Linked DNA regions of Homo sapiens: region 2 is linked to region 1. Evidence: fine-mapped expression QTL. A gene starts in region 1. The other region holds a variant in brackets. All regions are shown on one strand. Distances are from middle to middle.

Region 1 (16,758 bases):
GAAAGAAAGAGGATACTGCCTGATTTCTTATGAAGTATTTAGGTGATTAAAGGTGATACAGGGGACTGATCACTCCTTATCTCTAAAAATACTTCCTTTACTTGGCTTGTGGGACAACACACTCTTCAGTTTCCTCACACCCCACTGTCCACTTTTCAATCCTCCTCGATGGCGCCTTCTCTTTTGCTCAGCTTTCCATGTGGAAAGTACCAATTCTCAATTCTTGGATCTCTTCTCAGTCTAACTCCCTAGCCAAGAGATCCCTTTAAGTCTACTGGTGATGCTTAACATTTAACTATCCTCAGTCCAAACCTCTCCTCTGAATGCTTGACTTACATATCTAACTGCCTACCTGATGTGTCCACTTGGGCGTTTAACAGACACTTCAAACTTAACATATCCAAAACATTTGACTCTCTAAAGCCAGAAACTAGTAACTTTCACTATTGCCACTACTGTCGCTCTAGTCTAAGCCATTAATGTCTCTTAAACCAGATCATTCCAATCATTTCCTAGCTTATCTCATGGTTCCCAGTGTTTTAAAGAATTCCCAGAGCCATTCTTTAAAAATATAACCCAATTTTTTGGCTTTGCTCAAAATCCTCCAATGAATGCTCATAGCACTTAAAATCAATGAATAAAATCTCTATGCAACCTCATTTCCTCCTATAAGCACCTTTTCCTCACTCACCTTCAGCCACAGTGTTCTCCAAATTCACTTATCCCATTCCTGCCTCAGAACCACCGCACCTGAGTAGAATACTCTCCACTCAGATACCTACAAGATGCTTCCTTACCTAATGCAAGTTCTCTGCTAAATGTCACCTCAGAAAGAGGGATTCCCTAACCACTCTAAGATAGTTCTCAAGGTGTAGCATAGTGGATAAAGAGGCTATTTTTTTGTGTCATAGAGGGGACACAAAATATGTATTTATATTTGCTTGAGGTGAAGAAAAATTCATGGCCAGGCGTGGTGGTTCATGCCTGTAATACTAGAACTTTGGGAGGCTGAGGAAAGAGGATCACTTAAGCTCAGGAATTCAAGACCAGCCTTGGCAACATAGTGAGACCTCATCTCTACAAAAAATTAGCTGGGCATGGTGGCGCACACTTGTAGTCCCAGCTACTCAACAGGCTGAGGTGGGAGTATTGCTTAAGCCCAGCGGGTCAAGGCTGCAATGAGCTGGGATCCTGCCCCTGTACCCCATCCTGGGCGACAGAACAAGACTCTGTCTCAAAATAAATAAATAAATAAATAAATAAATAAATAAATAAAGTTCATTGAAGAATACATAAGAAATAATAAAAATAGCTACTTACTGGATTGGCAAAAGTGGTAACTCAGCAGATAAGATGTAGGGTGAAAAGGTTTTTCATATTATTTCTTTTCAAAATATTATTTGAAAACTACCTGAATGAACACTTGAAAACAAATGTAAAACAGCAGTCCTCTACCACTGTCTCTTTACCTTGATTAATTTTTCTTCATAGCATCTATCCTTACTTGACTTTACATCGTAAAAGAATTATCCATATCCTCCAGTATATTGTAAACTTCATCTAATTCCTTTACTGCTGGAGGATATAATGGTTTTCTCTTTAATTTAAAAAACAAAACAAGGCCAGGCGCCATGGCTCACACCTGTAATCCCAGCACTTTCAGAGGCCTAGGCAGTGGACCATGAGGTCAGGAGATCAAGATCATCCTGGCCAACATGGTGAAACCCTGTCTTTACTAAAATACAAAAAATTAGCCGGGCGTGCCTGTAGTCCCGGCTACTCGGGAGGCCGAGGCAGGGGAATAGCTTGAATCCAGGAGGCAGACGTTGTAGTAAGCCGAGACTGAGCCACTGCACTCCAGCCTGGCGAGAGAGCAAGACTCCGTCTCAAAAAAACAAAAACAAAAACAAACAAAAAGGCCCCAAAAACAAACAAACAAAAAAAACCCATCCGAATGGTTTTCATTATTTTTGTGTCACCTTTCCTCCCAGCATCTTTTATTTATGTAACATTCATTCTATTTATAAATGTGCATGGCTTTGTCCTTGGCTATATTAAGTATATGGCCAGGATGGAGACATAAGAGTTTGGCTTGTTGAATTTATAAATGTCAAAAAGCCAGGAAGGAAAGCTAATCCCTTGGATGACAGAATCATGATTCAAGAAGATCTCAAGTTTTAACTATAGCTACGTTCACGGAGATGAAATTTAATAGGAGGCAATGGTAAAATACTGGTTTAAAAACATCACCTGTGTGTTTATACACAATGGGAGAAATCTAGCTAAGTGTAAAAATGTTGGTTTATGTTGACTACATCAGTGGTTTCCAGACCAATTTTTCAGAAAACAAATTAAGAATCAACATAAGGCTGCCAACTTTTTATTGGTTAATCAGGAACACTAAAATAAAACAAAACCCCATGACCAACATCAAAAGAAACTTAACCTATCATTACTTAATAGGTGTTACTAACACTATCATTTAATAAAGGCCATTTATGAACATTAGAAAAGGAGAACAAAATCTCAAAAAATAGTACCTTGAATTACATAAATATAACTTGAAAAGCCATGTAACATTTCTCTCTCTCTCTCTGCTTTTTGCTTTGAATTAGCAGAGATGACTGTTGTTAAAGAGTTGATACAATTTTAGACTTTAAACACAAGTGTATGGCTTGAAATAAGGAAAGGGACAATTTCACTGCACTTTGCATTCAGACCATAACTGCAGAATTAAATATGGAAACAAGATCAGAACACAAAGAATAGCACTGACAAAACTGATTGAATCCAGCTGAGAGATGTGAGGGATGGCAAAGGAAACCATATGAAGTTGGAGGTGTCCTAACATTTAGACAAGAGAAAATCTAGCTAATATATTGAGAAAAACCTTACTTCATCTTACTCCTAAAGACTGAATTGCAACCAGTGGGAAGAAGTTATATAGTAAAAGCAGCTACTAGCTCAATTTAAGTGAGATCTTCCTATTACACTTTTTGGAAGCTAAACAGGCTTTCCTATGCCCAGGGAAGGGTTTGTGGAGAAGTTGGACCCAATAACATCTCAGAGATATTAGTAGTGGGTGATACATTGTATGAGCTGACTTCTAAAGTTCCCTTGAATTCTAAAATTTTATGAACCAGAGTAAGGAAATAAGTGGTACCCTTTAACTTACTAAAAAAGATGAGTAGAAAGAATTTTGGCTTTAGCCAAAAAGACAAAGGTTCAATTATAGGCCCTATCACTTAGGAATGTGTAACGCAGAGGCAAAGTTATTCACTAACTCTATGCTTCAAATTTTTTCAATGTGTAAAAATAATACCTTAATTTAGAAGTTTGTTGCAGAAATTAAATACACACACACCACACACACATAAACTTCCTGGCACCTAGGAAATGTTCAAAATTTGGTAGGTATTATTCAACGATTCAATAAATATTGTGTTTCAAAGGGTAATATTTTCTATATCATTTATTACTTATGGATATACTTAAAAAATGACTTGTTCTCTGCTATGTGTCATTTGTTTTTCAGACCTCAACAATGCATGCTTGGGATTCTTTTCCACTTCTATACTTTCTGCAATTCCTGTTTGTATGTAAGTAGATTTTATGAGGTTTTCTTTAACTTTGCTTTTGCTGTTTTGTTTTTCCACCTTTATTTGATATAAAAGTGGGCTTTAACAGCAACACACATTGGCTATGTCACTGGCTTTGGCTAAAACATTTCTGCTAAACTGGACAATATATCCAGTTTAATCAACCACACTACCAGACAGATGTTTTTTATCTCTCACAATGGCTAACTCACTGCTGAACACTCCTTTATGAAATTTTTGAGTAAGTAAATAAAAACCTAGGGTATCTGATTAGAAATTTTGGTTATTAATGAAATAAAGATATTTCTTCCCATCAAAAGTATCCCATTTCTTAATGAAACAGATCAACACTGAATGCTCCAGTCAATACTATCTACTCACCAAGCATTCTTCAAATGGCACGTAACTGCTCTTTTGTTATACTTCCAGAATAATTTGCAACTGTACAGATACTTTAGTTAGCAATTAAATATCAGGTTGTCTGTCAGATACTTAGTTGAAGAGTACACTGCTTAACATCCCAGTGTTTGGGACAGATAAGAAAGAAAAGTCTTTACCTATTAATTAGTATAGAAAAAATATTTTTCAGGAATACAATTTTGTGGAATAAAAAACATTTTGACAAAAAAGCTTAAGCATATACAATATTTAGTACTAGATGAGCATTATCTAATTGCAATCAGATACAATAATAAAACTAGTTCTTTTTTTCAGTAGATAAAAAGGAACAAGAAACTGATACTTGGAACAAATCAAATAAATCACGAAGCACAGAATTTTAAAAAGTACCATAACAGCATTAATATGCAGAATGTATGCTAAGGTTTACAGTATAAATTTCACTATTCTAATGTTAAAATAGGGAACAGGCAGATTATTTCCATACAAAATAATCTCAGAACACAATGAAATTTACCAGTAAAATACATTTAAAGCATGATTGAATATAATCCCACATACTGAAATTTAGTTACAGATTTTTAAAGTTGAAATTTAAGATAAATAATAAATCCTTTAAAGAAGTCTATTAAAATGCAACGTAAAATTAAACGATTAAAATTATAAGGGAAGAAAAAAGCACTTTATGGCAAAATCAACCCAATAAAAAACATAAAGTTAATATATCTTAAAATGTAAATTCTAGTTTAAGTTAAAAGTAATCACTAATAACTCATTAATGATTACAACTCATTAACTGTGGCAAAATAAACATCATAGGTTCTTGTTATGCGGAAATTTTATTTTTAACACAGCCTATAGAGTTGATCATCATACTATTATAAAATACTATTGATTTTCAAGAAATAATATTAAAACCTACCGTTAAGTAGCTACCATTAGGTAGTAGGGAAAACACTGCAACACTTCGTTTTTATGAAAAGCACATGTTAGGACATCTTTCCTCATGTAGTAAGTTACTTTATGAAAGTAAAGGTCCATTTTAGGAGGATTACTACTTTTACATCACAAAGGCAAGAACTAGATTAATCACGGTGAGAATCAAGTTCAGTGATAGTCACAGCCTACTCAGGGAGCACATAGAGAAGCTTTCCATACATTTTCACAAGGTAAAAGGGCTAGGGGGACACAGGAAAGATCACTCTGCAGAATGGACCTTGAGTTTCGTTTGGCTCTGCCTTCGATTAACTGTCTGGCTTGGGCAGACAAGTCAGTTAACTTTCTGAGTTTTAGTGTCTTCCTCTGTCAAGTGCACTTGGGCTCTTCCGTGTTATCTACAAAGTTAGGAAGAGCTAAAGGCAGCCCTAGTTTTACTTTTTAAAAAATAATAACAGAAAAATACATAAGTTGCTATTCATCAGTGTACTGTTTCCAGAGCTGAATTCCTAAGTCTCTGAAGCATACCCAGTTAGGGTTATACCAGTGAAGATCCAGATACTATAGTCATAATGTCACTCTCTCCTCTCCCATTATTCCTCCACCTGCTCCTCCCCATCCTGCTTTATTCTCTCTTCTGGTGTGTTTTAAGAAGCAACGCCAGCAAACGGCTGCATACATTGTAAGCTTAAGGATTAAATCATTTTAAAATATGCATTTTCAATCAAATGTATCATCTGCTTCGCCAAATTCCTCCCAAATGGCTGAATTTTCATTAAGAGAATAAAAATGAGTTAACAACTTCGGTAACAGAAATGTACTGGGCCAGTTGTTTTGTTTGTTTTACTTGCTTAAAAAATAAACGGAAAGATGTATCCATTCCCTCAGGAACATAAATGCATTACCTGCCCAATGAAAAAACAATTCTGCTTGTTCATTTCCCTGACACAACAGCTTCGTTGTCAGGCCCTCTCTAGCCCAGGCTCCAACGTCACCTAGTAATTTTATATTGATCACCTTGGCAGTGCTTGGACTCCAGCAGGCATAGTCCCTGTCTTCCTTACATTCCTCAAAATAAATAAATAAATAAATAAATAAATAAATAAAACTCTACGAAACACCACCGAACAGAGATTCTGTGACTTAGTATACAAATCCCACGTCTTCCCGCCCTGTGTTAGGCAGCTGCAAATGTTATTTTTTCATCGCTTGCATAAAATGGAAGCGAAACGTACCAAAACCCTACATCTGAATCCTAGGACAATGAAGCCGACAGGAAGCCACTCTCTCCTCCCCCGGGTTTACTACAGAGCCAGAGCCTCCACGGGGTGCAGTCGCCAGGCAGGGTGCATGACACCGCGTCTTCCACGCCCTCCCAACGCGTCCAAAAGGTTGCTCGCCTGACCTCGCCAACCGCCTCACACCCCAAAACCAATCACACAAAAGGGATTGGCCCGGGGAGCTGCTCCAATGGGGGAAAAATCCCTTCCCCAGCGGCAGCGCAGCCATTCCCTCCAATGCTCCGCCCGCACCCCTCGCAAACTGCTACGGCGGAGGGGGGAGGGCTGCACAAAGCCAGTCGAAAGCTGAAAATGATTCAATGCACTTAGGGGATGCGGAGGCGGCAGCAAGGGGCTCGGGAAAGCCGGGGGGCCGCAGGACTGGAGCTCCGGGGGGCGGCGGGTGGGGGATGGGAAGGGTGGTCCCGTCAAGCCCCGGGTCCCAGGCGGGCAGAGGGTGGGGGTGGCGGCGCCGCGCGGAGCACCCGGGAAGCGCCCCCTTCGCGGTCCAGCCCCGCACCCCCGCCCCGCGGCGGGCGGCGCCCGAGTCCTCGCCGCAAACCCGAGGAGCAGGATGTGGAAAGCAGCCGCGGCGGTGGCTGCGGCTGCGGCGCCTACACCGAGCAGCCGATCGCATCACTTACCCCTTACCGTGGAGAGAGGGACCGGACGGGGGAGGCGGGGCGCGTCGCGTCCCGTGAGTCTCTCGCACGCCGTCCTCCCCCCACCTCGTCGTCGTCGTCGTCGCCGCTGTTGTCGTCGCTGCCGCTGCGGTCGAGCTCCGGGGCCCTCAGCTCCGCTGGGCAATAACGTTATTCCACACACGCCCCACACATAGCGGTAACGGCAAAGACCGACTGCCTAGTGCGCAGGCGCCTCGGGAAAGGGCGAGGAGCCGGACCCTATCCCCTCCTGCCCAGTTCCAACGATCCCTTACTGCGCAGGCGCCACACACAGACAATGAAAAGGGGTTGTGCGAGGGTCTCACCCACACGCTTTTCCAGCTTGCCCACTGCGCAGGCGTGCCCCGAAAGACCAGCTTGAACAATGAAGAGGACCTCGGCGTTAGGTGGGACCGCAACCAACAAGGACTACAGTTCCCAGCGGGCAGAGCGCCAACTCCAAGTGAAGGTCCGGTTGCTGGGCATGCTAGGAGTTGTAGTGTCGGCCGCCTTTACAATCTAGGCTGTTTGGAAGATTTAGAGCTTCTATTTCTTGAAGATTTATTCGACCGTTTTAAAAAATCTCGCAACTGAAGCAGGGTTCAGAGTTTACTATCTGCGTCCTTGAGTAGCCTGGGGATCAACTGCTGCATATTAGCAAATTTCGAAGCGTCAAGGCCTTCAGTGAGCCCTTTCTGTCATTTGGGTGGTCCAGGCAGCTGAAGAGTGGGATGGAGGCGGGACTAAACCAGGCTGGGCTGGAGGAAAAGGGCGGGGCCTGCAAGCCTGTCTCTTGGCAGCAGGCTCTGGCAGCCAAACCGTCCAAGCTAGCGCCTGGAGCGCAGTGGTTTCTGGGAATTGTAGTGTAACTGGAAGGCCCTGAGGATTGTCGAGCTTGCAGGTTCTGAACGTGAGGACTACAACTCCCGACGTGCAAAGCGAGGGCCAGTGGGTGGGAAGAGCCCCCAAGAGCTCTGTGCGGGATTCTAGGCTCCCCTGTGACAGCCGCGGCAGGAAGCAGGCGGGCGCTCCCCGGCCACAGGCCTGTTGTTCTCGGAAGGGAGAAAGCTGGACATTTCCCCACGTAACTCCCAGCTCTGGGCCTAGAGTGCGTGCATGGCGAAGTCCCCGGAGAACTCTACCCTGGAGGAGATTCTGGGGCAGTATCAACGGAGTCTCCGGGGTGAGTTGCTCCAAACCTCTGTCCCTAGCCCCGAGGTGCCCAGGGCCTAGTGGGCGGGAGCAGACCAGGTGCGTTTCCTAACACCTGGGTTCTGCCCCGTCCACGCTACAGAGGAGCAAGATGGATGTTGCTGTGGTCTTGAGGAGGATGAAATAGTTTGATTTAGTTTTTACAGTTAAGCAACGATGTTTCCTCAGATTCCCGTAGTTACCTCAATCAACTCCTTGATCTTAACTTGGCATCTTTCTCAACCGGCGACAGCAGAAACTCTTGGATAGCTCTATGCCATTTTTGTTCAGTTCCCATACGTTGCTATTTAATCCAATAAAAGTCTGATTCACAGTTTTTACACATTTAAATTATGGCACAGTGGATTGAATGTGATTTATGGGATCAGTGGGGGGAAACACTAATAATTATTTTAATCACAAGAGCCCCCTTTTAATTGATTTAGGCTATTTACATACAGTAAATCATCTGCAGCTTACACCAATCGTGTGAATATTTTACACATGGGGAAAGCGAAGCTCAGAGAGGTTGAATTACAGGCCAGAGCCCACACAGCTGGTTAGTTGCAGAGCCAGGTATTATCAGGCTTGCCTTCAAAGCCTATGTTTGTATTTACTAATCAAGCCATAATTACTATTATCAAAACCTTATTAATTTAGATTTTCTTACCACATTACCATATGAGCAAGTATCTGTACAAATAATGTCTGTATTTATTTTCCTTTAAGCTCTGTTGGACTTAATGTCTGTACTTTTAGATGGCGCTGTCAACTTGGACAGCATATATAACATCTAGAAATTTCGATTCTGTTATAATGGAAGTTATGGAATTGTCCATAGGGTTATTGTGGGGAGCAAATGAAATAATCCCCATAAAGCAGTGATTTTAAGACTTCTTAAAATGTTTACCTATAGTAAGAAATAAATTTTATATGGGACATATGTGTACATATAAACTATAAGTTTCACTGAAGAATTTTTATTCTACTAAATGTAATAAACTCTGCTTTCTATTCTGTTGCATTTTCATAAGCCTCTAGGTCATGACTGTTTGCGACATTGAGAATACTAAGTTATGAAGCATGTGTTGTTCTGCATAATATGCCTACTATGTGTCAGTGCCTCCTACTATGTGTTAAGCATACTAGGTGCTAGGCATGCAGTAAGGAACAAGACAAAGTTCCTATCCCCATGGAGCTTCTGGATTAGTTGGGGAGAAAGACAAAAAAAAAAAATAATTATAGATTACTATGATAGAAAGTAAGGGTAAAGATCAGTGCTTACTAGACAAGCACTCATTAAATGTTAATTGTTATTTATACTTGTTACTTAAAGCAAAGTGAAGGTTTTTCAATATTAGAAAGTTTATCTTCTCATGACTCTAGATTTTATAAGGGTTACTATGTATTGTTACATCTGTCAATTGTGTTAACAAACTGTCGACATTCTCAGTATTCAAACTGCAGGAGTAAAAAAATCGGTTTTAATGAACACCTTCCTCAACCTACTGATGTTTCAAGAGCTGTTAGATACAAAATAAGCACTTCTAACTTTTCATTTGGAAGCAAGAAAAATACTGTGCACAATGATATGAGTAATTGTAATTTTTAAGATTGGCAAAAATTTTTTGTTTTCATTGAAAGTTTTTCCTGATGCTTCTCTTCCTTTGACCTTATTTTAAGTCTTTATATAATTGTCGGAGGCTGTTTAACATTAGGCATTTTGACGCAGTAAAGGGGTTCATTTTAAATTAATGTTATAGTAATATGTTTAATACTAGTGGTACTGCTTTCAATAATTACAGAATGAAGGGTTTTCATTTAAGGATAATACATTTTAAAATTAGTTTGAAATAAAATTTAAATTTAGTGTGATAACAATATAAGGTAGTGGAAACATTTCACCAAGAGCAAATACGAAGGATAGAAAAAGTTAAACAACTTAAAAAAAAACGTATTCATAATTTTAACAGTGAATCAGGAAATGTAACCTGAAATGTTTATGGGTTTTTCAGGACATATCATTTATTTAGTAGCACTTTTATTTTTGTATGTTAGCTTATATAACAGCTTCTGGAAGGAAACAAAACAGAATTAACTCTGAACTTAAGTACAGTCAGAAGTTCTTCACAAATATAAATTGCTATTTTTGAGTAGTATAATTTATTTATTTAGAGATGGAGTCTCACTCTGTCATCCAGGCTGAAATGCAGTGGTGCCATCTCGGCTCACTGCAGCCTCTGCCTCCTGGATTCAAGCAACTCTCCAGCCTCAGCCTCCCAAGTAGCTGGGATTACAGGCACGCGCCACCATGCCCGGCTAATTTTTGTATTTTTAGTAGAGACTGGGTTTCGCCATGTTGGTCAGGCTGCTCTAGAACTCCTGACCTTAAGTGATCCGCCCACTTCAGCCTCCCAAAGTCTGGGGTTATAGGCGTGAGCCACCGCGCCCGGCTGATAATTCCCTTTAAAGTAAAGTATTCTGTTCCTTAATAAACAATGCTGGAGTTATGTGGAAATTCCTTATTTTGAGTGTGCCTAATAATTTAAGAATTGTATTACTATGTAGTAAGATAAAATGCAGTTTAAAGTTCTATGTCTTATTTTGTTTTGGTTTTGTTGGTTTGTTTGGTTTTGTCTACCCACCATTACTTCCCCAAATGCCTTGCGTAGTTTATGATTAATGGAAGCCTAATAAACAGTCTTGGTCTTTCCTCACCGGTTTTTCCTCTAGCTTGTAAATAACTGCACATGTAGTCACTACTAATATCCCTTCATTGATATTCAGCCAGGAAGTGGCCGCATAAAAATGCAAAATGCTTTCCCTATTTTCCGTGATCGTACTTCCATTTTAAAAAGATCTTTTCCTGGGGCCGGGCGTGGTGGCTCACGCCTGTAATCCCAGCACTTTGGGAGGCTGGGGCGGGCGGATCACGAGGTCAGGAGATGGGAGACCAGCCTGGCTAACACGGTGAAACCCCGTCTGTACTAAAAAAAAAAATACAAAAAACTAGCCGGGCGTGGTGGCGGGCGCCTGTAGTCCCAGCTACTCAGGAGGCTGAGGCAGGAGAATGGCATGAACCCAGGAGGTGGAGCTTGCAGTGAGCCGAGATCGCGCCACTGCACTCCAGCCTGGGCGACAGAGCGAGACTCTGTCTCAAAAAACAACAAAAACAAAAACAAAAACAAATTTCCTTATTTCTTTAATGTTGGTACTATTATGGTATATCAAAATTTGAAGTTCTAATGTGAAAACTGAGTCAGCATTTACTTTCTTGTTTTTAAAATGAGGTTGGGCGCGGTGGCTCACGCCTGTAATCCCAGCACTTTGGGAGGCCGAGGCGGGCAGATCACCTGACGTCTGGAGTTCGAGAACAGCCTGAGCAATATGGAGAAACCCTGTCTCTACTAAAAATACAAAATGAGCCAGGCGTGGTGGCAGGCGCGTGTAACCCCAGCTACTCGGGAGGCTGAGGCAGGAGAATTGCTTGAGCCTGGGAGGCGCAGGTTGCGGTGGGCGGAGGTTGCAGTGTGCTGAGATCGCGCCACTGCACTCCAGCCTGGGTAACAAGAGTGAAATCCTATCTCCAAAACAAACAAACAAAAAAAGATATTTTCCTCATTTCTTTAATTTTGGTACTATTATGGTATATCAATAATTTGAAGTTGTAATGTGAAAACTGAGTCAGCGTTTACTTTCTTGCTTTTAAAATGAGATCCTTGCCTCATTTTGACCTTGATGATCTTGGAGCAGCTCCACATTCACCTTTCATCCATTCCCTTACACTTTTCAGTGGATTTGCTGTTTGACTTCTCTAAAGATATCTCTTGCTTTGGGTCGCCTATGCCCTTTTACAAGAAATTGGAGACATTTAATGATTCTTCTTCAAAACGAGAGTTCTGGCAGAAAAACCGGAAGGCTTTGTTGCCCCCACAGATCTGTTGTATTATTCCTACATAGTAAATGGTCTGAAAGTTTCCAGTGTGGTTAAAAGTGTATGTGTCCTGGGTATCCTGGGAACCACAGAATTTAATCTAGAACTGGAAGTGATTTGGGAGGTCTCTTGGCAGTAAGGTTAGGTGTTCATTTACTCTATGGGTAGTTATAATTCAACAACCACAGAATGGCCGAGAACTACATTTGTAAGTGGGCAAGATAGCACATGCGCCTTCTCTAAATTCAATACATCGTTGTATAAAGCCAAGAGGTATGAAATGAACTATTTCATAGCCAAGAAAGGGTGAAAAAAGCCACAATTATAGGCAATCCAGGCTCTATTTTAAGTACTGCACACTTGAGTGTAAGGGGATATCAGAAAGGAGAAAAATTGCTAGAAATGCAGTATTTTAGCCTTAATAACAGAATCATGTCTCATCTCTTGCTGCAGCGTTGGGAATAGATAACAATTTTATCAACAACACCTGTATACATGACTCACCTATTCACCTCATTCCTAGCCACCTTTGGTTGGGTGAGTATAAGGAAAAATGAAACAAACTTCTTGTATGACAGGAACTCATGATTTTCTATATACATTTTGCATTCTGGTTTTACCTTTTTCTGTCAACATTTTGGTGTTTCAGCCTTTAGATGAATTTATGGGAAGAGTGTGGTGGGGTCAGAGGAGAGAATGTGGAGCTGGGAGCCAGGTCACTGCACTTACTTTTGCTTTGCTGACAACCATCTGGGTAACCTTAGGCAAGTGAAACACACTGTTCTTGGATTCCCGTTTCCTCAACTGTAAAACGAAAAGTTTGGACTGGATGTGAGAATTATTGCCTTTAGGTGCCAAGCAAATGATCAAAAGGTATGATGGAGTCAGTGGAAGACATTAAGGGAAATGATGAGGCTTATGGCCAAATTGGGCAGTTTCTGCTTTTTCTAAAAACATTTCAATTTCTTCCTTGCTCCCTCCCTCTTTGCTTCCTTTTTTTTCTTCTCTCTTTTTCCCTCTTTTCCTCCCTCTTTTCTTCCAAGAAGGAAGCCAAGCAAAACACACCCAGAGCCTGATTCCCCTTTAGACACCACTCTCTGACCCTTTGATCATTAATGTTCCTTCCATCAGCACTTGTTTGGACCAGATGAATGATTAAGGGCTATGTTTTTGTCTTATGGAAATGAGAGTAAGGAGTTGAACCAGGTACACAGAAAGTGAGAGGATGAATATGAGAAGAAAATATATAATCTCAGGGATGGGCCTTGTCTTTACGAATTGATGTAGTTCAAGAAAACCAAAGATAAGGTTGACTTTCTATGTTTTGCTTGTATATGATTAGCACATCTATCCAAATCCTGCAAAGTGGCTCACAATTGTAGAAGGGCTGTGTTAGTCTTACTAGCCAACAATTTGGTCAGTGTATTAGCCAGCAGTGATATCATCTGGCTGTCTTAAGAAAACATATGTGTAACTCAAATAAGTATTCCTGTTTTCTTATAAAACTTGTATTTCTTTTTTGCTTTTCTCAAATATTTTCTGGATTTTTAAATATTGTTTGCCATATGCACTATATAGGAATATACACACATAAACATGAGGGGTTTTTTGCTGATAAAATTCAAATTATACATATTCATCTTTTGTTTTATATATTCATGTGGCTTTTCTTTTTCTTTTTTTTTTTTTTTTAATCTCAGCTCACTGCAACTTCCACCTCCCAGGTTTAAGCGATTCTCCTGCCTCAGCCTCCCGAGTAGCTGGGTTACAGGCACGTGCCAACACACCTGGCTAATTTTGTATTTTTAGTAGAGACGGGGTTTCTCCATATTGGTCAGGCTGGTCTCAAACTCCCAACCTCAGGTGATCTGCCTGCCTTGGCCTCCCAAAGTGCTGGGATTACAGGCATGAGCCACGGTGCCCGACTTTTTTTTTTTCTTTTGAGACAGGGTCTTATTCTTTTGCCCAGGCTGGAGTGCAGTGATGTGATCTTGGCTCACTGCAACTTCTGCCTCCTGAGTTCAAGCGATTCTCCTGCCTCAGCCTCCCGAGTAGCTGTGATTACAGGTGCCACCACCACGCCCGGCTAATTTTTTTATTTTTAGTAGAGGCAGGGTTTCACCATGTTGCCCAGGCTGGTCTCGAACTCCTGGCCTCAAGTGATCCACCTGCCTTGGCCTCCCAAAGTGCTGGGATTACAGGCATGAGCCATTGTGCCTGGCCTCATGTGGCTCTTCTTAGTGCCTTTAACTTTTATGATCTTTTATTTTACTAGAACTTAAAAGTACAATCTCAATTTTTCTTTCCTACTACTGATGAGATAAAATTGGCAAAAGACAGGATTTAGCAACCAGAAAAGAAATGAGTGTTCTACAAGTAAATAGTCATCCCTGGAATAATCTAAATCAAAGGTATGTTTCAGTGTTAGGAGATTGTAGGGGTACTTTTTCATGTTCTTTGTCAGAAATAGGTATAGAGTAAGTTTTTTTCAAACTATTGAGATACTGAGAGTAATAATATTCTCTCCTGGGATGTTTAAAGACTTATGGTCTGATCACATTGCCAGTTTGTGCTAAGATTTTCACCATTTTACTTGATGATAACTCTTCTCAGAGTCCAAAAGTAGACAAGGTAGCTAGAAATGCCCTTGTGCACTGGCTGAAGCAATCCTGATGATGGCGGAACTTCATCAAAGCCCACTGGATACTTAAAGGGATGGCCTTAGGGCAAATATTGCTTTTAGGCCCTGAAACAAAATAAAGCTAAATATGAATCTGAGCTCTTGCTTCTGATAGATATAACACCTATTCCTGACACCTGGATCAGATGTGTCCCATCATGGCACTGTCGGTCTCAGGCTGTGTCCTCCCCACCAGCACTCCTGTGGCAGAATAGCTCACTGTCACGCTCATTTTCCATCAAGAGGCGGCAACACTTACAATGTAATGTGGTCAGAGTGATAGCAAGTCTCCCCTCAACACTGAAAACTCTTGTTTTATTGATCTCGTTTTATTGACTTGAAAACTGTCTTGTTTTATTGATTTTTTTTTATTGTCACAATTGGGGGTGGAGATGAGTGCTGCTGGCCTCTGGTAGGCAGAAGCCAGGGATGCTATTAAACTGGCACAACACAGCCCCTTCCAAAAGAGAATTATCAGGTCCAAACTGTCAATAGTGCTGAGGTTGAGAAATCACGATCTAGAAGTACAGGCTTTGCTTGTAGCCCTTGATCTGCAAGAATCCTACTTTACAGTAATTACAAGTAAGGATATACAGATTGTATTTGCTGGTGATTTTACCTATGTTCTTTGCCAGCCTGGCTAGGTTTACTTCTTTTATCAGTGGAAAGTGACAGGTGCATCAGTCCTCTCCACTGATGCCAAAGAAATACCAGGTGTATCCCTTAGAATGCATATAGCCAATCTCCTGGATTTGCCAACACCCACATATCTTTAATGGTCTTCCAGACATTGCTTTCTTAAGATGTTTACATTCTTTATCAGATTATCTTTTACTCCTGGCGCCAACCACTTTAGCATGTTTTCAGTTATTAGAGTCTTAGGATAGTATTTTCTTTGAGATTCAAACAAAAAAGTATTCTACATAGTACTTGTAATCTCTTTCACAATTGTAATTGCCTTTCACAAAGCCGACATTGTCTGATTTTTTGATTCTGCTGTTTATATCTTGGTAGTGTTACCTGTTGGTCCCCTAGTAAACAGTGACAGCAATCTTCTGAACCAGGCTGAGGCCCAGTCAAGTGTAGATAGACATGTATTTCTTATCTCACTGTGGTTTTATTTTTCTGCATGTCTGCCCTAATCAAAGCTTGTGCTGGGAGCTGCAGTGCATCTCATATCTCGGCCTCGGGAGGAATGGTTCATTGCATATTCTCTCAGAGACAGCTGGGCGCTTCGCAGGGAGTGGTCCCCCTCCCTGTCACCAGGGCAATTCTCTTTCACATCTCCCAGGACAGATGGAGAATGAAGAAATTAATAATTCATAGTGTGTATTTAAGTGGTGATTCTTCCTAGACTGAGACATACTTGCATTTTGTTCAAAAACATCTTGATGAAGACAGGCCCAGTGGTGACCTAAGAGTTAGAACATAGGAAGTAGGGAAACTCTTACTAAGAAAATGGACAATACAGGCCAGGCAGGGTGGCTCACGCCTGTAATCCCAGCACTTTGGGAGGCTGAGGCGGAAGGATCACCTGAGGTCGAGGGTTTGAGACCAGCCTGACCAACATGGAGAAACCCTGTCTCTACCAAAAATACAAAATTACCCAGGTGTGGTGGTGCATGCCTGTAATCCCAGCTACTCAGGAGGCTGAGGCAGGAGAATTGCTTGAACCTGGGAGGCGGAGGTTGCAGTGAGCCGAGATTGCACCATTGCACTCCAGCCTGGGCAACCAGAGCGAAAACTCCATCTCAAAAAAAAAAGAAGAAAGAAAATGGACAAGACAGACTGAAATTAGCTAGCAGCCATTAGCTCAGGTACCTTTTAAGTGCTCATTGTACTGATTGATGTTTGGATAGTGCATTAGCAGAAATATTATCTACTTGCACTTACGTTCATGTGATCTGTAGGACTCAGGGGTCCTGTTTGTGTCTGTAGTCATAGTTAAGTTTATAGTCAGTTCCTGGTTGGTGCTGGGGAAAAGAAATCAGGATGCATTCATTGTGAAATACCCTTACTGTCCTCTCAGGAGAGAAGAGGAAATGAGTGTGTTCTCTCTCTTGGTTAGAAACAGATA
Region 2 (16,758 bases), 170 kb after region 1:
GGGCTTGTTTTTGGCTGGGTTTTCAGGCACACATGTTATATAAAGAAAATAGCATCAGAAGCTCTGCGGGAAATGCTCTGAGCTTACAGTTAGAGTCTCCTGAATAGCATTGAACAGTTCCCACAGTACACACATTATAGCTACTCTAAAAGCCTAATGAGTTTGCTTCAGCATCCAAACTGGAGAAAAGCTTTAGCCATTAATCGGTTCTTAATTCACTGTCGCAGCTGGATGTAATTCAGTGGCTCCAAATTGATATGTTCCTTTATTTAATCTTTGCAGCTTCGAACATTTTTAGCATTTGTATGATTTCCCCACCTCCCCCAACCCAATCTAGAGTGATGTTTAATCCTTTGCATTCTTCAAGTTCTCACAACTGCTGTTAAAATTCACTAATACAAGGCACTGACCACAGCTGGCAGCTTGGCTAAAAATTGCCATCTTTCATCACATTGGCACTATTCTGCAGACTGAGTTGGCCAGTAACTCTTTACCTTTAATTTGAAAGTAAAATGCACTTTGAAAATAGACAGTTTGATTTGTTCAGTCAGAGCATTATGTAGTTTCTTTCACTTTTGAGTTGTGTGTTCACAGACAGTGTTAGTCAAAACAAGACAGTGTCAGTCATTATAATTCCACACCACATACTCCACACTGATTGTACTATTAAAACAAAAGTTTAATTGATCCTGTCTCTTCCAGAAAAATGTTGCTTAATTTTAGTGCCTTGATTTATTTTGATTTGTATGCTATATGCTTTTTGCCAATCATTGGCTAAAATTGAAAAGAAATAAAGGCCTCTTAAAACTTATGCTTAGAGGTAATTTTCATATGATTTAATGTATTAATATATTGTATTTGATGACACAGTAAGAAATTATTTCTTATCCTATGGGTGAAAAATTGCCAACAGGCAAGTCATTAAATAATCTATTTACTTATGAAGAGGCAAATGTCATATTGACTCACATAATTCCCTCTATCACTTTCAGTAGAGATTTTCTTCCAACAGCATTTGGCCAGAAGAAACGAAAATTCACCAGGTTTAGTAGAAGTTTTTCCTCTAAAAACAAAAAGAGGCAATTGTAGGATAAATTATTGTTTTTGCCCCCACTGCTAGCATGATCCTAGTGATCAGAGTCTTGGGCAGAATCTAAGCACTAGATTAGAATGTATTTAACTGTTAAAACCGCCTTAAGAACATTTCCTTTTGTCTTGTACACACATACACAAAATCACACTGTTTTCAATTTCTTTGACCAGATCTCCATTGAAGCTCATGCTGTTGACAATGAAATTAAAATTCTAAAGAAAATACACATTTTTACCTTCATAATTAGAGAAGTGTATGCAAGATTGGGGGTGGTGGTGGTAGTAAACCATGTGTGCAAATATGAAACAAAGCATGAATTACAGTGTAGAAGAGAATTCCTCGATGATTTTAGTTTTGAGTTATCTGGTTGTGATAATTTTTGACACTCTGTTTATAGTAAAATTGTCAAAATAAAAATATAATATCTTGCATATTGCAAAGATATAAGCATCTATTCTTCCACTTGAGGTATTTGACACTTTATTAACATGTTAAAATGTTACACCAAGCTGGTATGATGAAAAATGTTTCTGGTGTATAATTATGTTGAAAATAAATGACTCCCAAGATTGAGTGTCTTTCCAGATGATAAGTCCTTTGACTTAGGACATTGAAGGTGATCTAGTGGCTTATTGGAAATGTGTAGGGGTCTAAGCACTTTACCACTCTATGTATGGAAGCACTGCAGAGCGACAACCATAAACATCTTATGTTGGTGGGGGTTTATTGTTATTTCTAGAAAATGAACAGTATTTGTTGCTGACCTCCCAGAATACATTTTTGACAAAGTTAAAGGAAGAATGCTGTACATTAGCCAAGAAACTGGAACAAATCTCTCAAAAAACCAGGTAGGTGATGTTATAGAATACTTTCAAGAGCACTGTTTGTGTGATTACTCTAATTTTTCCTTAAAAAACATCATTTGCACTGTTTTATAGTCTAATGTCAAAATTAGGTATCTGCTGATGTTTTCTTTGAAAATATTTTCTACATATGGACATTTTCTTAATTGTCTATACGCTTTTATGTTTTTTCATGGTTATGTGTATGTACTATTATTTGACATTTCAATGTTTAGAATTGAAAACTGTGAAATTTCAGGAAAGAAGGATCAATATGGTAATAACATAAACATGCAGATAAATCAAGCAGTTATAAAATCTTACATAGGTATGGTTAACACATTTTAATCTATTGTTACAATTCACCATGAACACAAAAGCTGTCTTTAGGTTAAATGATAACAGATGAAATGTGTATATATAAAAATGAAAGTAGATGGTACTTTGAAATAAATAAACCAAAACTATTCTTCCCTTCTCCTAAAATTGTTATATTTTAATAGAACAGCCATCATTCATTTTATAGCATACTACTCTTTTATAAATCCATTGATTGGAATCTTAATGACTTTTTTCTATACACTTTCTAGTCAGATTATCTCAATGAATAAATTATTTCATATTCTAAACTGCAAGAAGCCCGACTCCCCATCTCAGCTCCGACAGTAACTGAATAATCTTGGACAAATGTATTTGACCTACTTGGACTATAGTTTCTTCTTTTGTAAATGAAAGACATTGGACAGAATCACTTTAAATTGAACTATAGAAGGCAATATTCACATAACTGATAAGATGTCAAATACTACTTTATATGATAACTCAATGAAAAAATTGCCTGTGTGTCTTCTTTTCTGCATTTTTCTGAAACTCACATAGATCTATTGAGAGCAGGAAATATGGCTCAGCAAACAAACTACTGACCTAGATGTTTCATTCGGGAAGGATTTCTGGGAGTATCAGGGCATATCTGATCACTCTGAGCTCCATCTTGGAATCCTGCATCAACAAGCTGTCTTAGCTGATAGAACCCCCATCCCTGAATCTTTTGGGGAATCAGAGGGCTCGTGCATCCAACTCTCCCTGCTCACCAGGAAGGCAGAGGCTCCTGTAACCACCAAGAATGTACTCTGACATGCGCACCTTCCTAGCGTATACTAAGATTGTATTTTGGTAGGGGAAAACCTAGGTGCCAAAATACCAGATATTTCAAGGAAATTTGACCAAGAAAACCAAATGATTTTGTCATGAAAGAGACCCATAAAATATCAACAGTAGCTATTCTTAACCAGAAATACTTGATTTGCACCACATAGATCCAAAAGTAATTTGTTAGAAGCAAACAAACAAGATTGTATCATTTAGGGATAAAATGATATCAATCTGGGTTTTATATAAATGTATTAGGTCTAAAATTGGTTTGTGAATGATTAGTGATCTTGCTCTCCAAGGAGACCTAATTAGGGAAATTTATTATATAAAAGAGACAAAAAGGTGCTTGGTATGTTATTTAATTCTCACCACAACTTGAGGCAGGAATTATTATCTTCCAGATAAGGAAACCAAAACTGTTTAAATAACTGGTGAGTGGGAGAGCTACGGTTCTAACATAGGTATTTCTGGTTCCAAAGTATACGTTCTTTCTTATGGTAATTACAGTATTTTACATCTATTGCTAAAGAAAATTCAAGCCACAGTAGTTATGATGAGAAAGTTTGGGAAGGAAAAATTCACCTTTAAATTTCCGTGGAGAAGTAAGCGTCCTTGGCATGTAACGGTTAACTTACTCTGTGCCCCTAGGCCCTCTTTTTCCTCCTCTAGATCTGTCATCTTAGCCTGTACTGGTCTAACTCAGAACCTCTATTGCTCCTCCTGCTTCTCATTCCTCCAGCTCCTGAACAGTACTTTGTAAATTGGATGTATTCTTTTGTATCTGACATAGATGGCATTTAATGAATAAATGATGAATGAATGAAACAAATAGGTGTGGTGCTATTCGCACCTCCTGATCTGACTTCTGATGCCAGTCTGTCCCATTGTTGATGGCTGACAGTGTGCAGTAAAGAACACATGGCAATTCAGAGGAACTAGGTTTGAATCTCACTCTCCCACTTGGAGCTTTGTAACCTTGGGTACATGGCCTCATTTCCCCAAACCTCAGCTTCTCCTTCTGTAAAAACATTTCTAAAGCCACACTGCAGGATTGTTATGGGAATTAGAATTGTGTATATAGATACGCATACATACACGTATCAAGTGCCTAGCACAGTGCCTGACACATAGTAATACACAGTAGCTGCTATTATTTTCACTGGTGGCATTTTTAAGGGTCTTGACTGGTAATTTGGGTATCACTTTACATAGCTATTGTCTTTGCCAGGGAAAGTCTGACTGTCATTTTCCGACGGACATAAGTCTATGCCACAATGAAAGCCTTTTTAAAACAGCCAGATCAGGAAAATGTGGATCTAGTTGTATTTTGTAACTCTGATGAATTAAAGCAGGCACCTACTCTAAGTTTACAATTTGACTCAACCAAGGCCTGGCAAGTAGTAAACACTTGATAAATTGTTACTTACTATTTTTAAAACTCTCAAGCGCCCCTAAAACTTACGAAAAGTGCATTTTGTGTGCCTCACAAGAAGGTAGTGAATAGGACAAATTTTGATTTTAGGGTTGTTTGTTCTTAATTTCTTTTAGTTCCAGTTTCATTTCTCCCTGGCTTCTTACTATGACATTTTCAATAACTCATTCATGTTAAGTTTTACATTCCATTTTGATGTTACCTTCTGCTTTGAAACCACCTATAAAACTTGAAGGGCTTAAACTGCTTCTTTTAAAATACAAATTATTAATGTAGTAAACTCTGAAGAAGCCCTCCAGGAGTGTGCCTCTGCATACCCCATGCCAAACTATTGGGATAAATAATTTTCCCTGTGCTTTGAGGTAAGGAAAATCTTGGAGTTTCTAAAGTTTTGTCATTGTGGAAACTCAGTCTCCAAATTTATACTTATGCAATCCATATGGTAATTTTGGTCCAGCTTTTCCTCAGAGTATTACAGTAAAATTCTTCTTGAAAAGTAAGTGTATTTATTTTGTATTGAGCAATAATTAAGACATATTTTTCCTTCCTCTGTTACTAGCAACATTACTCTAAGAGTCTTGTTTTTCAAAATACCAACTAAACAAATAGATTCCTACCATTTAAAACAAGATTTTAAACTCACAGATCTAGTCATTTGACTGAAGCCCATGCAGAATGACGGGAAAGCTGAGAGCATGGGCTCGGCGTGCACGTACGCCCTTACTCTCTGCCCCAGCTTCATGCTAGGCTGCTCTGTTGCTCTGTGAAAATGTTTTGAAATGGTACCTCCGTGTGTGTGTCTGTTGTATGTGTTTTCTCCCCAAGGAGACCGTAAGTCGCATTATGGCAGTGACGACTGCTTCTGTTTTCTGGAAGCCTCCATAGTGATTAGCACAGTAGTTTGCGCGCTCTGTGTACTCCACACTGCACGTAGTGGTGTCTGTAACCCCGGGGTTTGTGAATGGCACGTCCCATTTTAAAACTTAAAATGAACTGCCGATTCTGTGCATGTTGTATAGCTTGTTTTTGACCATCAGGCAAGAGAATTAATTCCATTTTGCTTTTAATTGGCACCAGGCAGACATTCTGGCTGATTTTAGTTGAAGCTCACATAAACTTTCGCTATCCTTCCTTCTGTATTCCCCAGTACTCTGAGAGCTTATTATAGTTATGGGGTTGTTTTTTGAAGGAGGTAAACGGAGCTATTTAAATATCTTCGGTACAACTGTGATTTTTCTTTATCAAAGTGAAGGAAGTGTTCTCTCTCCCCACGCGCTTAGATGAATCAGCAGTAAAACGTTGCAGTGCGGTTTGCAGTGCTATCTAACACCTGGCCTGGGAGAGCTGGAAGGATTGGGTGCTGGCAGGGAGTGAGCCTCTGCCAGCCACAGAGTGGAGAGAAGTGTGTGCTAGGTTTTAGCTTCCACCTCTTGCACACTGAAAAGAACAGGATAGAGCATAGAACCAGGGTCTATGTGGTTTTGCTTCTTTCTTTTCTGTCATTGTCACTTTCTGGGTTGTGAGGCTTGTGGACTGATGTCTAACACTGCCCATTGTGTATTTGTGATTTGCGTTTTGTAATTAAGAGGAACAATGGGAGTCCATGGGGTCTCGTTATATATAATGGTTGGTTTAATTTGTTTCACTTCTATCTTGTTAATTGTAAATTGATCATTAAGATTTGAATTCTAATCTGTCACCAGGGTTGTGAGTATTGAGGCTAGAGCAATGATCCCGGTTTTAATCACTGATGATGAGAAACAAATTTTATAATTTTGGTACATATTGCAGTTCATATATTTTAACACTATACTTTATGGTGTTATAAATATTGTTAAATGACTTTTAGTGTAGTTTTACTGTGTGGACTATAATGTGTAAATTATATTACTGTTTTGGCAACAGTAGGTATCCAACTGTGTGAGTTTAATTGAGGTGAAGAACACACACCCGGTTGAACTGTTTTTTTCCTTTGCATGTTTAGATGATGTTAGGTTGGGATACTATAAAAATTATATTTTCTACAAGAGGAGACTGATATTGGCCTCTGCTAATTGTTACCAAAAGTCAAACTAGAACCTAAAAGAATAAAAAATTAAGATATTGTATTTCCCTTTGAAAGCAATTATCATTTTAATCCGAATTATAGTAGTAAAATATATTTCATGCAAATGCAATTATGCAACATAACTGGTATATAAAAATACAGGGGAAAGTTCATGCTTCTGTAAAGCCAGAAATTGCCTGAATTTTCTATGAAAATGGATTAGAGTCAATTATCCTTTTATATGACACAGGATAATCATGCCAGAAATGTATCTCCTAACTAACAGAAAACTTGTAAGTTTACTCTTTGAGCTTTGCAAACTACTAGTTCTAGGAACATATCGTGAGCTGCAGACAGAAAAAGGATGATGTGCAGGCATATATGTCAAATTTTTATTGAAAAATGGAAGTTGGTAGGCAAATTACAATTATAAACAAAGAAAAAAACAAAAATGTGAAGCAGAAAAAAAGATTGTTGCAATACACACTTGATAGTGATGTGTACTTTATAAATAACATTTATATTTTTGGGATTATGTAAGACATCCTCAATGCAGGGAATTTGGAAAATACAAAGAAGAATTAAGGAAAATTTCCTGTGCCACTACCAGCTAGAGATAACTATTCTTACCTCTGATATATTTCCCTTCAGTCATTTTTCATGTGT[A/G]TGTCTGTGTACATTTATAGTGTGATTGAGATTATACCGTATATACAGTTTTGCGTCTGCTTTTTCATTTGATATCTAATGAACATTTTTCTATATCAGTAAATACTCTGAAAACAAAACTTTATTAAATGATTTGCGTGTATAAGAATTATTAGGCTTTTAAGATGCTTCCAATTTTTAACCGTTTATGAATAATAATACAACAAAAACTTTGTACCTAAATCTAAATTTTTGATTGTTTCCTTAATTGCTGGTCCAAGACGATTAATCCTTTTAAGGGTGTTGATGTGTTTTACCTTGCTGAAGTACTACACTAACTTCTAATAACTGTATATGTAGCCATATTAGTAAATAACATTACAAAGAAGTGAGATTTTTTTAAAAAAGCATGAGAGGCAATATTGCACAGGTGGGTGGAACCACCCCTTTAGAGGTGGACTAAGTAATATCTGGGCTTGACTACTTGGATGACCTTAGGCAAATTATTCAACTTCATGTTTACCTCACAGAGAAAAGAAAAGAAACCCTTACAAGTACCTTATAGGATTAATTGAGATCATGAATGTAAAGGATGGATTTCACTGTTTGTTATACGGTGGCATGCAGTAAATATTTGGTGGTAGTATCTGGTTTTGTTGTGCTATTTTTTGAATAATAGTGAAATTGAATATGTTATAAATGGTATTGATCATTTGTGTTTCTTCTGTAGATATTTTCAATATTTCTTATACTTTTTAATTGGAATTTTGATGGAGAGTGCAGTTAGTGTTTCATTAAATTATGCTTTTAATGTTTGTCTTATTTTTGTAAATAATTTCCTGTTGTTTACATTGATTTTAATTAATAAGCTTTATTTTTTAGAGCAGTTTTAGGTTCACAGCAAAACTGGACAGAAAGTACAGAACTCCCATATATTCCCTGTTCCTTCCACACACAACCTCCCCCACCAGTGACATCTACATTTTGTTTTATTATGATTTTTTTCAAAATCAGAATGAATTTATTTAAAACAAATAAAATACATATCTATTTTAAAAATTTAGAAAGTATGGAAAAGGATGAATACAGAACAGAGAAAACATTCCTGATCCTACCATCCAGAAATAACCAATATTAATAGTTGGTATGCATGTCAAAATATTTTTCTAAATTATAAAATGAAATCACATTACACATGCTGACTTTTAATGTTTTCTCTTTGTTACTAATATGTCACAGTTTTAGATCAATAAATATCACTTATAAATAGCCACATTATCAGAATAATAAGTAACATAACCAAGCTCCTGTTGATAGATTTCTTGGTTAAGTTTCCAGATTATGGGTTGCAAAGAAAGGTTGTTTCTAGAAACAATGCTACAATGAATACTCTCACACAAACCTATGATATATTTTAAATGTGATTTTTTTATGCATAAAAGTTTTGTATTTTTATATTGTAAAATCTATTTTTTTCTTTGTGATTTTTCTTTTTAAAAGTGCCTTTTGCTTGGAAAGTGCCTGGGAAAAGATCAATGTTCTGCATTTTTTTCTAATCTGGTTTAAGGATTTTTTTTCTTCTTTTGAAATTTATTTTAGTGCATGGTATGATAGGAGATACTAATCTTGGAAGGGATACCAGATCAAAAATTTATCATAACTGCCTCTAAATTCTTTTGTATTGTATGTGATTCTGAAAGGAGAAACGTAAGTCATTATTAACTCCTTTCGGACTATTTCAAATATGGGTAGATTCTTATTAGGAGAAGCAAATGTAGATTGAGCACTTGATCTGAACTTGAAAATGAGATAATCCATGCTCTCATACAGAATATGGTAGGAAAGACAAGGCACAGAGCACAATTTAAAAGAATAAATTATAAGCTAATGTATGCATAAAGGCTAGAGGTAGCTTCAAAAAACGTGCTGACATATTGAGAACTGCAAGGTATCAATCAGGGCAAGCTTCCTTTTGGATGACATTTGAACCAAGATGAAAACAAAATGAAGAATGAGGTGAACTAAAAGCAAGAGTTTTTGCTCCATACACGTGAGCAGCCTGGTCCTTGGGATGAACAATTTGTAAAGTAAGATTTCCCTTAGCAAATCCAAATCCTTTTCTGACCAGGAAGAAAAGGCTATCTTGCCTACTGGAAGAATTCTTTCTTTGAAGGGAATTAATTTTATGTCAGGAGTCTTCAGAAAACAATCCAATCATTAACCTGAAAACGACTCATAATATACAAGAGTTTTAAACTTTCCATTCTAACTGATTAGGCATTAGGGCATGAGGAGATGGTGGCAGTAGGCAGTAATTTAGAGTTTACTTAATACAAGGAAAGGAATATAATTTTTCTTGGATAAACATCTTTCTGATCTTCAAATTTTGAGACTTGGATTGTCATCTAAGACACGAAAAACAAGATATTCCCATTTTGCTCAGGGGAGGTCAATCTTTTTTCTATTAAGACCTTCAGTGGATTGGATAAAGCCTGCCTGCATGGACGGCAATCTGCTTTTCTCAAAGTTTACTAATTTAAATGTTAATATCATCTAAAAAGCACCCTCACAGAAATGTCCAGAATAATGTCTGGCCAAATGTCTGGGCACCATGGCCCAAAGAAGTTGACACATAAAATTAACCATTAAAGAACTATTTTTATTTTAACTGTGTGCCATTAAACTGGTTATGTTAATTAAAAGAAACTCTGTTATAGAAATTAGGCCTAGGGTTTCTTCTTTGACAGCATAGTGTTTGGCCTATAACAAGCACTCAGTAAGTATTTGTTAAATGAATGACAGTCTTTTAAAAAAGAGATTTGATCATTATCATGTTTGTCTTATTCCTTAGGGAAGCCATTTCTGTTAGAGTAAGTTGTTATTCCTTTTTCTGTCTAACACATGAGTCTCTACAATGTATCTTGCCATTTCTGAAATATTTTCTTTTGCAAAGGATGTAGTTTTCATTATGCTATCATGTTTAAGTGTGGAGTTTAAGATAATGTTAAGGTTATATAATAACAATATGCCCTAGTAATAAGAACTTCTAACATCTATTATTTTTGTGTTTTCACCTCTAGATCTGAAATAGCTCAACTCAGTCAAGAAAAAAGGTATACATATGATAAATTGGGAAAGTTACAGAGAAGAAATGAAGAATTGGAGGAACAGTGTGTCCAGCATGGGAGAGTACATGAGACGATGAAGCAAAGGTAATCAAGGTTTCATGTCAACTCATGTGCCGCATATTGAATGTGTTTGGTTTACACACTGAAGGGGAATTGCTGCGGAATAAGTAGAATTCATCATCATTATGCTACTTGTGACATGCTCAAAATCTAATACTTTATTTTATGTATTTATGCTTCCTTAATTTAGGTTGTTCTTATTATATACAAAGAGGAGAGTACATCCTCTTTTTGTTATTCTCTGAAGACATAGAATTAGATTTAACATGGAAGAATGGAGGAAAGCCATTTTCCTTTAAGGTGTAAGTTGGTAATATTGTAATATGGAGGAATTTCAAATTATCTCTCCTAGAAATTAGATTTTATATGCTTTTTGTAAGGTAAAGCACATAGTAGGTCTAAAGAGGTTAAACATCTTATCAGAGGTTGCACTAATAGCATTGCTAGAGTCAGAACTTGACTACAAACAAAACCTTCACTTCTTTCTGGTGGTGTTACTTTGAGCAAGTCACTTAAGTTCTCTGAGTGACTGTTTCTTCACCTATATATTGGCGCTAATCATATCTACTTTGCATTTTGATGGAAAGATCAAATATAATATGGCAAAGCACATGGCTCATAAAGGCCACCCACTAAATGTCATCAATAATTATTATTCTCTTTTTCTAGATGAAGAAATTCGGCTCAGAGAGGCTAATAGGTTTGCTCAAAGTGACAGATGGAATAAGTGGTAGAGTTCAGACTTGAATCTTGATCTTTTGACTCCAAAATCCTTTTCTTTTTGTGCAGTAATGGGGATTTTTTTTTTGGCAATAAACACAGCCTCTTACTATTTTTTATCCATGTGCCATTTCTCACTTCTGTGTGATAATGGATTCCCTGGGCAGAAAATAATCTCAGTATTTCACAGCAGACAGTGAATAGGTTTCTGTAGACTTGGACTTCCACATGACAACCGCATGCACGATGATAGCAGCCACCCTTCCAGTGGACACGGTTCGCGTGGCCTCCAGCTCGGCATCCCCACACCATTTCCCAGCCATCCATGCCTTCTCTGTTTCAAAAACAGTTCTTGATATAATTGAAGGAAATGAAAATATTTATAGACTCCTTGTATTTTTTTAAATGTAAAGTAAGCATATTAGCCTGGGGTGGGGGGGAGGTATTTTTACGTTGATTACTTGCTTTATTGAATGAAGACAGGCAGTCAGATGATGGCACTGCTTGTCAGTTATCAAAATACCAAAATATGGATATACTTGCAAAGTAATAATTATTCATTCACTATTAAAATGTTTACTTAAGCCCAGGCACTTCTGTAGGCCAGGGGTCTGCAAACGTTTTCCGTAAAGGGCCAGAGAGTAAATATTTCGGACTTTGCAGGCCACACGTGGTCTCCGTGGCATAGTCTTCCTTGTTTTGTGTTTTTTACAACCCTTGGAAAAAGTAAAGACCATTCTTAGCTAGAGGACCAACAAAATGAGCCAGAGGATTTGGCCATTGGGCCAGCCTTTGCCCCAGTCCTGTGCACCTGGGGCATCTTTCCATTTATTTTCTTACATTTGTGTATTGCTTTAGAGTTCCTAGAATGCTCTCACACATAGTACCTTATGTACCTTGAAGCAACCTTGAAAGTAGCTGCATTTATCATCTCCATTTCCAGATGGAGAACTAAGCCTAAGAAAGACAAACGTGCCGAATGAAGGTCAGGTGGCAAATTAATGGTTCGTTCATTCAACATTGATTGATTGATTGATTGATTGCTGCTGTGTGTCACATTTTCTACCACATGCTGGAATAAAATAGCAAAGTAGATATAGTTCCCACTCTAATGGAGTATACATCCTTATAGGGAAGATGGATATTAGCAAAAGAATTTCATAACTGTCTAATTAATTATAGTTGACCCTTAAACAACACAGATTTGAACTGTTTGGGCCCATTTATACACAGATTCTTCTCAATAAATTTATTGGAAAATTTTTTGGAGATTTGCAACAATTTGAAAAAACCTGCAGACAAACCATGTAGCCTAGAAATAATGAAAAGAAGTTTTAAATTTAAGTATGTCATGAATACATAAAACATCTGTAGATACTGGTCTTTATCATTGACTACCATAAAATATATGCAAATCTATTATAAAAAGTTAAAATTTATCCAAACTTACACACACAAACACAGATCATACATGGTACCATCTGCAATTGAGAGAAATGTCAAATGTGAAGGTGCAGTATTAGATCGTAACTGCATGAAGTTAACTGTAGCACACACTGTACTACCGTGATAATTTTGTAACCACCTCCTGTTGCTATTGCGAGGAGCTCAAGTATTGTAAGTATCCACTGAAAACGCTGTGTGGACTAAATCGTCTGCATGTGAACAGTTTCTCTCTCCAGTAAATTGCTTATTGCAATAACAAGTGATCTATTGCAGCTCTTGTGTATTTTTCATCATGTTTAGTGCAATACATAAACCTTGAATAACACCGTGGGACCCATACGAAGTGCCACTAGTGATGTTGGAAGTACTTCCAAGAAGCAGAGAAAAGTCATGACGTTACAAGCAAAAGTTGCATTGCAGGATATGTAGCTTAGATTGAAGTTTGCAGCTGCAGCCGCCTGTCATTTCAGATGATTCATCTTATAAACAGACATTATAAACTTATGGCATCAATATATAACAGTACAGTACTGTAAAAGTATTTTCTCTTATGATTTTCTTAATATTTTTTCTAGCTTACTTTATTGTAAGAATATAGTGTATAACACATATAACATATAAATATGTGTTAATCAACCATTTATGTTATCAATATAAGGCTTCTGGTCAACAGTAGGCTGTTGGTAGTTGAATTTGAGAGGAGTCAAAAGTTATGCATGGATTTTTTGACTGTACAGGGGGTTGATGCTCCTAACCCCCATGTTGCTCAAGGGCCAACTGTACAGTAATGACCAGTTCTATGAAGGAGAAATATATTTTGTGGTACAAGTACATTTAATAAGGGAACTTGTTTTTTAAAAAATTATTTTTAAGAGAATATCTCACTCTGTCGCCCAGGCTGAAGTGTAACCTTGAACTCCTGGGCTCAAGTGATCCTCCCTCCTCAGCCTTCCAAGCAGGTAGGGCTACAGGTACATACCACCATGCTCTGCTAATTTTTTTTTTTTTTTTTTTTTTTTGAGACAGAGTCTCACTCTGTCGCCCAGGGTGGAGTGCAGTAGCGCGATCTCGGCTCACTGCAACCTCCGCCTCCTGGGTTCAAACAATTCTCCTGCCTCAGCCTCCGGAGTAGCTGGGATTACAGGCGCCTGCCACCACGCCCAACTAGTTTTTGTATTTTTTAGTAGAGACAGGGTTTCCCCATGTTGGCCAGGCTGGTCTCAAACTCCTGACCTGAGGTGATCCGCCTACCTCGGCGTCCTCTGGGATTACAGGCATGAGCCACCATGCCTGGCCTAATTTTTAAAACTTTTTGTGGGTACTAGGTCTTGCTATGTTGTCCAGTCTGGTCTTGAATTCCTCGCCTCAAACCATCCTCCCGCCTCGGCCTTCCAAATCTCTGGGATTACAGGTGTGTGAGCCACTGTCCCCAGCAGGGCACTTAACATTGATTAAGAAAAGCTTCAATGAGAACATGACATTTGAATCGGTAAGCAGTGGGATTAGATCAGGAATTGGCAAACTATCTGGCCCTCTCCTAAAAAATTTTACTGACTCCTGTTCTAGAGAAAGAAAATCTATAAAATGGAAGTTCCTGAGATAAGAAAGCATAGTACTGGAGGAAGAGCAAGAACTGTGTGTCCAACATAAAGGAAAACAGAAAGTGTGGCATACAATGAGGTTGGAGAGGTAGGAAAGGGCTGGACCTAAAGGCAGGGTCTTTATGTTTTTGTTTTTATTTTATTTTATTTATTTATTTTTTGATACGGAGTCTCTCTCTGTCGCCCAGGCTGGAGTGCAGTGGCGCAATCTTGGCTCACTGCAAGCTCCGCCTCCCAGGTCCACGCAGTTCTCCTGCCTCCCGAGTAGCTGGGACCACAGGCGCCCACCACCACGCCCGGCTAATTTTTTGTATTTTTAGTAGAGACGGGGTTTCACCGTATTGGACAGCATGGTCTGGATCTCCTGACCTCGTGATCCGCCAGCCTCGGCCTCCCAAAGTGCTGGGATTACAGGCGTGAGCTACCGCACCGGGCTGGTCTTTATGTTTTTATCATGGACCTTTAAATTTATCTTGTTACTAATGGGAAGAAATCAAAAGATTTTTTAAAAAATAGAGGAGATGTGATCAGATTTGCATTTAAAAATTGTATTCTAACTCCACAATAGATAACAGATTGGAACAGAGCCATCGTGTTTGCTCAAGACCAGTTATGGGCCGGGCGTGGTGGCTCACGCCTGTAATCCCAGCCCTTTGAGAGGCCGAGGTGTGTGGATCATGAGGTCAGGAGTTCGAGACCAGCCTGGCCAACATGGTGAAACCCCGTCTCTACCAAAAATACAAAAATTAGCTGTGTGTGGTGGCGAGCGCCTGTAATCCTAGCTACTCGGGAGGGTGAGGCAGGAGAATCACTTGAACCCGGGAGGCGGAGGTTGCAGTGAGCCAAGATGGCACCACTGCACTCAAGCCTGGGTGATAGAGCGAGACTTTGTCTAAAAAATCAAACAAACAGAAAAACGATTAGGGAGTTTTTGGACTTAGTCAAGCAATGATGATGCTTGGACTGGAATGCTAATATTGGTGACAGAAATAAACACTGGCGAAATGTGTAGGAAGTAGAACCAGCAGGAGTTACTTGATTGGCAGTGCTGGGTGGAGAAGAGGAGCGTGTCAAGGACGACACCCATATTTCTGACCTGAGCAATGGGTGCCTAGTGCTGCTACTTACTGAGAACTAGGGAACACTCTAAAGAAGCTGGTTTGGGGTTGAGATGGCCTGGGTTTGGGATGAGATCAAGCGTTACGTTTTGGCCATGAATTTAATGTTCAAATGATGGTAAAGATCATTCAAGTTGTAAAAACGAAGAAAGTTAAATTTTCAACTGGTGGTTTGGAACCCCTGGTGTCCACAAAGGCAGTCCAGGGAATTCATGTTAAAGATGGCAGTGCCATTTTTTTTTTCTGTTTTTATTTTAAAGTAAGTATCAATTCACCTATTTCTCCCTAGAAAATAGAGCTGTGTGAAAATCCCCCAGTGTATACAGAGTGGACAAGCCCCAGAGCCAGTGGAGCACTGCTGAGCACCTGTGTCCTCTCATCTGGGCGTTCACTGTCACCGACTCCCAGTAATCCCGGGGGTTTCGTCAATTACACAGTTTTACAGGAGTTTTTTCCCCCTTTTGTATGGTAATATATTGTTTAAAGTATATCCATAAAAACCATTGTCTAAAGACATGCAGCTTCTGATCGAAGTGTAACAATCTAGTAATGAGTTTAAAATAGGTAATTCTTCTATAAACTAGATTCAGGATGATCTTTACCAAATCCGTAAGTTCTATGTTTGTCATAGAAATTTGATTCTTCAAAAGCCAATGTTAAAAATACAAATTATAATATTGATTTCTATCTAATTTGACATTTTAATTTGGGGAATTAACACTATTTACTATTTTCAGAAAAGTGCTTGAAAATAGAAGCCTGAAATCTTAATCTTTATCTCATAATTTAAAAACAAAAAGAGTCCTTTGCAGGAACATGAATGGAGCTGGAGGCTATTATTCTTCAAACTAGTGCAGGAACAAAAAACCAGATACCGTATGTTCTCATTGTAAGTGGGAGCTAAATGATGAGAACACATGGATACTTAGAGGGGAACAGAAGACACAGGGGCCTGCCTGAGGGGAGGAGGTGGAAGAAGGGAGAGGATCAGGACAAATAACTAATGGGTACTCGGCTTAATACTAGGGTGACAGTTATAATCTCTTCACAATCTCCCATGATACAAGTTTACCTATATAACATACCTGCACGTATACCCCTGAACTTAAAAGTTTTAAAAAAATGGGAAAATTAAAAAAAGAGAGAAAGCTGTAACAGTAGCAGTTGAATTTTATATTCAAAAAGCAAACATTTCAAAACAAATCATGAAATTGTTTTTATTTGTTATTGATTTTATAACATGGGTTTAATTTCAAATCTATGTTTTAGAGTATCTTTTGGTGTGAAGACGTTATTAGCCAATGGTGCCTTTTTCTTTCATAATTAATTCACTATGGATTTAATTTATGTAAATGAAATAGTGGCATTATTTATTGCACAGGAAAATTAAAATTTTATGTTACAAAGTTCAAACTTATGCTTATTTTAAATGAAATGCTTTTACTTAAAAAGTTCCTCTTTATTATATATAATA

Evidence for each region. PIP is the estimated chance that this variant, and not a neighbour inherited with it, causes the effect.
Region 2: its variant is the best candidate, but not a certain one, in a credible set for the expression of SDCCAG8 in whole blood (TOPMed, PIP 0.54).

What each region holds. Positions count from the first base shown.
Region 1 is chr1:243,248,182-243,264,939 of GRCh38, forward strand. It overlaps SDCCAG8 (SHH signaling and ciliogenesis regulator SDCCAG8), which reads left to right and starts at 7,860. Exons shown (of 18, transcript NM_006642.5): 1 at 7,860-8,059. The coding sequence starts at 7,993. CEP170 (centrosomal protein 170) reads right to left here and starts at 7,100. Exons shown (of 20, transcript NM_014812.3): 1 at 6,859-7,100.
Region 2 is chr1:243,416,136-243,432,893 of GRCh38, forward strand. It overlaps SDCCAG8 (SHH signaling and ciliogenesis regulator SDCCAG8), which reads left to right. Exons shown (of 18, transcript NM_006642.5): 15 at 1,833-1,941; 16 at 10,292-10,423. Among named protein-coding and RNA genes, the nearest start is that of MIR4677, 78 kb to the left of the region's middle. The variant A/G (reference allele first, on the strand shown) is at 7,233.